2 separate regions of the Homo sapiens genome follow, and region 2 is linked to region 1. The links come from fine-mapping of genetic effects on gene expression. A gene starts in region 1. The other region holds a variant in brackets. All regions are shown on one strand. Distances are between the middles of the regions. Region 1 holds the start of ZMYND12 (zinc finger MYND-type containing 12). Region 2 overlaps RIMKLA (ribosomal modification protein rimK like family member A).

Region 1 (2,912 bases):
ATGTCTGTGTCCAGCTCCCTCACTAGATTGTGAGGTCCATGAGGGAGGGCGGTGTCTTATTCATCTCTGTATCCCCTGTGCCTAGCGAATACAGATGCAGAAAGGCCATCTCCAGATCAAGAGGAAATTAACCCAAGATTGGTTATATGGGATTAGATCTCTGGAAGAGAAGCGCCCATCACCTGCAGTGGGCCCCCAGATGACTGGATCTTGTGTTCAGGCATTTCAGAGACAGGAACATAGAAATCTGACACAGCCGCAGCCAGGTAAAACATCGCAGAAGGGCCTGCAAAGAGAAACACAAGGTGTTAACAAATCGGCGAGGTACGATATAGGATCAGCTCCTTCTCAACTCGGGTTCCCCAGCTGAGATCCGTGGGTAAGCAGGAGGTAAGGGGATAAGTGGCTGGAAAGAAAGGCTGTGCTTCCAGGCAAAAGGGGTACTCCTAGGGCACGCACCTAGCGGATTGAGTGCCTGGGCCGCAGCCTGCAACAGATGCAAATAGTCCGCCAAAGTGGTGAACTCTACTGCCAGGAAGGTGCCTGCAGCCGCAGCCTCCTGGTAGCTCCTCAGAGCCTCAGCAAAACCCGGAAGTGCATTCTCCTCGGCCTCCAGGCTCAGCAAGCCCGAAAGGGCTGGGCCCGAAGGCCGCAGAGCGGACAGCCAAGTCTGGGGTGGGAAGCGGTGGGCATAGGGGAAGGCAGAGCGAGCGCGATACAAGAACAGGACCCCGTAGCCGGCGGCTAGGAAGGCCTCGGCCGAGGTTGCACCGCGCCGCCCGCTGCTGAAGTTGTCCAGGAAGCGCACCGGCCGCGCTTCCAGTGGGACCTTGGTGCCGCCTGACGTAACCAACACCACCCGCCGGCCCTGCGCGCCCAGCCTGGCCGCGAAGCGAGCCATAACCTCAGCCCAGCGCGCAGCACCGGGAGGCTGGGGGAACTCGGCTACCGGATCCATTTCCGCCATCTGCAGCGCAGCGGCCGGCGCCTGCGCACGTTTCGCGGCCGCCGCGCCACGCCCCTTCTCGCCTACCTGGTGTACGCGCCGCGCCGTACTGAGTGGGCGGTTCACTACCCTTCTTTTGACACTAGGTCCCGATCTCGCCAAGTCTGGAAATGCGTAGTTGTTCTGCCCCAGAGCCCAGCGAAAGTGACACTGCAACGAGGGGGATCCCCGGCTGGGTGGGCATCTGGTAGGGTCACGTTCCCTCACGTTCGTTTCCTAGCCTGGGTGAAGAACTGGCCATGTTTGACCCTTACCGGCCACTGTACGGGCCTTTCTGGACTTGGACTCCTTGGGAGTCGTTTCTCGGCCATTTGACCCGTGGGACTTGTGGGTTTTGTGCTGCTTTTTCTTTCTTTCTTCCCCTTTTCCAACTTCAGCAATACACCCAGATGTTAGTCGAGTCACGTCCCGCCGCCCTCTGCCCTTGAAATGCTGGCAAGTACGCAGCCCCGCGATCGTCACGTGACGCCGGGGTTCAGCGTATCCTTGCTGGGCAACCGTCTTAGAGACCAGCACTGCTGGCTGCACCATGAATGTGATCTACCCACTGGCAGTCCCCAAGGGGCGCAGACTCTGCTGTGAGGTGTGCGAAGCCCCAGCCGAGCGGGTGTGCGCGGCCTGCACAGTCACTTATTACTGGTAGGCCCTGAAACGTGGCACCTGGGCGCTATAACTCCCTCCCTCTCTCCCTTTCCCGGGTCTGGCTTGGGTACCTTGCGTTAGCCGTTGCCCCTGACTCTGCAAGGGACACCTCAAAACGGCTTTAAGACAGGCCCCTAAGACTCCCGTGGCCTCGTCTGTCTCATCTCCCACTTATTCGTCACTCATGTTTTCTGAAGGCGTACTCTGTGTTATGCACTATTTTAGGTGCTAAAGTTACTGGGGCAGCTCGGTAGATCAGTTCCTTCAAAGATCTAACATTCCAATGTGGGAGACAAATCAGTAAAGAAACAGGCCGGGCGCGGTGGCTCACGCCTGTAATCCCAGCACTTCGGGAGGCCGAGGCGGGCGGATCGCCTGAGGTCAGGAGTTCGAGACCAGCCTGGCCAACATGGTGAAACCCTGTCTCTACTAAAAAATACAAAAATTAGGCGGGAGTGGTGCTGGGCGCCTGTAATCCCAGCTACTCGGGAGGCTGAAGCAGAAGAATCGCTTGAACCCGGGAGGCGGAGCTCGCAGTGAGCGGAGATCGCGCCACTGCACTCCAGCTTGGGCAACGAGAGTGAGACGATAGTGAATGGGGCAGTATGTGGAAAGCTTTCCCTGTGGAAGAAACATTTGAGCTGCATTTTGAGAGGGCAGTCAGAACCTGCTGTGTACAGGAGTAGTGAAGAAGGGTAGGGCATTCCCGGCATCCGGGACTGCTAGGGCAAATGGCAAAAGAACAGAGTTTGCTAAGGGCCGAGTGGAGAACGTAGTAGTGGAGGGAGCAGTCAGTGATTTTCAAACTGCAGGCCAGGGCCCTTTAGCAGTTTATGAATAAGTCACAATCACCATTTAGAGAAAACAACAACAACAAAAAAGAGCACAGAATGAGTAGAAAGTATCAGGTTAATCCTACCTGAATTGTTTCTTAAAACTTTTGTCTTAGTGTTTTATGTGGACATGTGTGTGTGTACAGGAAAAATGTATTTCTTACTATAGGTTGAGTCAAAATTAGCCGGATGTGGTGGCGTGCACCTGTAATCCTAGCTACTCGGGAGGCTGAAGCAGGAGAATCGTTTGAACCCGGGAGGCGGAGGTTGCAGTGAGCCGAGATCGCTCCATTGCACTCCAGCTTGGGCAACAAGAGTGAAACTGTGTCTCAAAAAAAAAAAAAAAAGTTGGAACATCATTGTGATAGGTAGTAGAAGTTTAAACCAAGAAGATAAAGGTTAGGGCTAGACAGTGACATGAGATCAAGGGT
Region 2 (2,912 bases), 31 kb after region 1:
TGCCTTCTATTTGTTCTGCATGTTCTATTTTTTCCTTTTCTTTCTTTTGGATTGATTACATAATTTTCTCCTTCCATTTCTTCCACTCTGCGAGCTTGTAGTTTATATTCTGTGTTTCTGTTCTTTTAGTGATTGCCCCAGAAATCCAAGCATTTGTTCCTTACTTATCAAAATTTAAAGTTATTTGGGAAACTCTCATCCCTGACAATAGAAGGTCTTTAGAATCTTTTAACTATATTTACCTCCCACTAACTTATACCTTCTTATTATTTCAAATATATCTTAAACTCATGTCATAATTATTTTGTAAAGTCATCATGTTCCTTCTTTTCACATCTTCCATCTTGGCTCACATTACTGATAAATATTTCAGTATTTCCTATAGTGAGGGCCTAAAGATGGCAAATTCTCAGATTTTCTTTCTTTCATTAATTCAAAAATGTTCTTATTTTGCCCTAATTTTTTTTACTCTTCAATGAAAATATATTTCATTTTTATATATGATTTATTGATGCAGGAAATCATCTCAGTTCTGAACAGCTCTACAAAATGTGGTTTACTTGGCCGGACGCAGTGGCTCACGCCTGTAATCCCAGCACTTTGGGAGGCTGAGGCGGGTGGATCATGAGGTCAGGAGATCAAGACCATCCTGGCTAACACAGTGAAACCCTGTTTCTACTAAAAATACAAAAAAATTAGCCAGGCGTGGTGGTGGGTGCCTGTAGTCCCAGCTACTCGGGAGGCTGAGCCAGGAGAATGGCGTGAACCTGGGAGGCGGAGCTTGCAGTGAGCGGAGATCATGCCACTGCATTCTCCAGCCTGGGCGACAGAGCAAGACTCCATCTCAAAAAAAAAAAAAAAAAAAAAATGTGGTTTACTTGACCCTGAAGGGTATAAGTAGGTTGAAATGAGCCAGGATTTCTGGGTTCCCTATAGAGTGTCTCTTATCTTCCCACCTGGTGATCACATCTTTCCTAAGCGTCTTCAGCAGAATTCATAAGGGTGGAGCTGAAGGATCATCTCTGAAAGGCCTGATTAAAATTTTCCACTAGCAAGCACATATGCACTGTTACAAATATATCATATCGTCTATGAATCTTTATTTAACAAAAATTCACTCTGAGTTGCTGCTCTACGCTCTCACTATATAACATTTTATCATTGCGCTCCATGGCTTTCTGCTGTGCCACAGGGCCTCAGATGACCAAGATTGGAACCAAACTGCTAGCACCAGGCCTTGCCATGTCCCATTACAGATACACATTGTACAAATGAGGTGTCTCTGTTCTCATGATGACTCTGTGAGGTACAACATTTCTCAAACACAATAGGTCACACAAAACAAACAATTGGCAAAGAAAATGCTTCAGAAAAGATGGTGAAGCATTATTTGGATGACGGAACCATGCAATCATTTTGCCAAACACAAAACATATGTCTTTCCTAATATTCATCAAGATCAGTGCAATGTGATAAATATTTTATATTATGTACATAC[A/G]TACACACACACTTTTAATAGCTAATATTTAAATAAGCAGTAGCAGGTTTTAAAAACATACGAACAAGGTTAGTATTGGGAGCAAGATGTAAAACCAGAATTATATATTATAAGCATTATCCCTTGCAGACCTTTTTCAGGATTGTGTATCTCCTGGAACATCTTAATGAACATGGCAAAAAAGAAAAAGAAAAGTTTTCAGTGAAAAAAGGTGGTTCATGGTTTAAAAGTCAAGTTTTACCACAAGAAACCAAGTTGGAGGTAAGGGTTGAGGAAGGTAGCAGCCAAAAATGACCACTGTAGTTCTGTTTTATTTTGTGTGTGTGTGGTTTCAGCAAGTGGTTGGCATTGTGCACTCAACTGAGGAGGCCCTGAAAGAGGGGAGGTTTGTTGGGGAGAGATAAAAACATGAATTCAGCTTGAAACATGGTGAATTTGAGACGCTTATCAGACATTTGAAGAGAGATGAAGGGTGGGCAACTGGATATGCCATCTGACCTTAAGAAAAGAAGCCTGGGCAGAGCACGGTGGCTCACACCTGTAATTCCAGCACTATGGGAGTCCGAGGCAGGTGGATCACCTGAGGTCAGGAGTTCGAGACCACCCTGGCCAACACAGTGAAACCCCGTCTCTACTATAAATACAAAAACATCAGCTGGGCGTGGTGGTGGGCGCCTGTAGTCCCAGCTACTTGGGAGGATGAGGCAGGAGAATTGCTTGAACCTTGGTGGTGGAGGCTGCAGTGAGCTGAGATTATGCCACTGCACTCCAGCCTGGGCAACAGAGTGAGACTCTGTCTCAAAACAAAACAAAACAAAAAAAGAAAAGAAAAGAAGCCTGGGTTCAGAGATAAATTTGAAAGTATCATGTACGTTGTAATTAATACCAAGCAAATGGAGATCATGTAGGGATGAAACCCGCAGCTAGGGAATAGCAGAAAGCCTAAGGAAATGCCGGAGGAAACAACATTTAATGGAGAGGAGGTGAACCCAGCACAGGAGGCTGATGTAATTTCAGACTTACTCAGCCTACTCATGCAAAGAATTCCTATAATACCTTTCACCCAGATCTCCCAAATGTTAACATCTTACCACATTTGCTTTATTTTCTCTCTCTAGAAACCCATTATTTTCTGAGCCATTTGAAAGTAAATTGCAAACATGATGTACCTCTATCCCTCGATATTTAATGTGTATTTTCTAAAAACAAGGACACATTCTTACGTATTCTTATTAGAACAATCACCAAAATGAGGAAATTGACATTGATATGATACTATCAGGCAATACAGTACAGACCAGTTGTCTTAATAATGTCCTTTAGAGCAGAAGAAAATCCCTGGGCAGGCAGTGTGCTCAGCTGCCACTTCTCTTTAGTCAGAGGAGTGCCTTTAGATGTGACACAAGTGCTGCCA

Evidence for each region. PIP is the estimated chance that this variant, and not a neighbour inherited with it, causes the effect. A credible set is the group of variants that fine-mapping cannot tell apart.
Region 2: its variant is the best candidate, but not a certain one, in a credible set for the expression of ZMYND12 in whole blood (TOPMed, PIP 0.58).

What each region holds. Positions count from the first base shown.
Region 1 is chr1:42,454,621-42,457,532 of GRCh38, reverse strand. It overlaps ZMYND12 (zinc finger MYND-type containing 12), which reads left to right and starts at 1,511. Exons shown (of 8, transcript NM_032257.5): 1 at 1,511-1,645. The coding sequence starts at 1,536. It overlaps PPCS (phosphopantothenoylcysteine synthetase), which reads right to left and starts at 990. Exons shown (of 3, transcript NM_024664.4): 1 at 460-990; 2 at 183-286. The coding sequence starts at 967. It also overlaps a transcript of CCDC30 not described here. RefSeq lists enhancers at 640-759, 850-919, 1,160-1,389.
Region 2 is chr1:42,423,985-42,426,896 of GRCh38, reverse strand. It overlaps RIMKLA (ribosomal modification protein rimK like family member A), which reads right to left. Exons shown (of 5, transcript NM_173642.4): 5 at 2,665-2,912. Among named protein-coding and RNA genes, the nearest start is that of ZMYND12, 31 kb to the left of the region's middle. The variant A/G (reference allele first, on the strand shown) is at 1,499.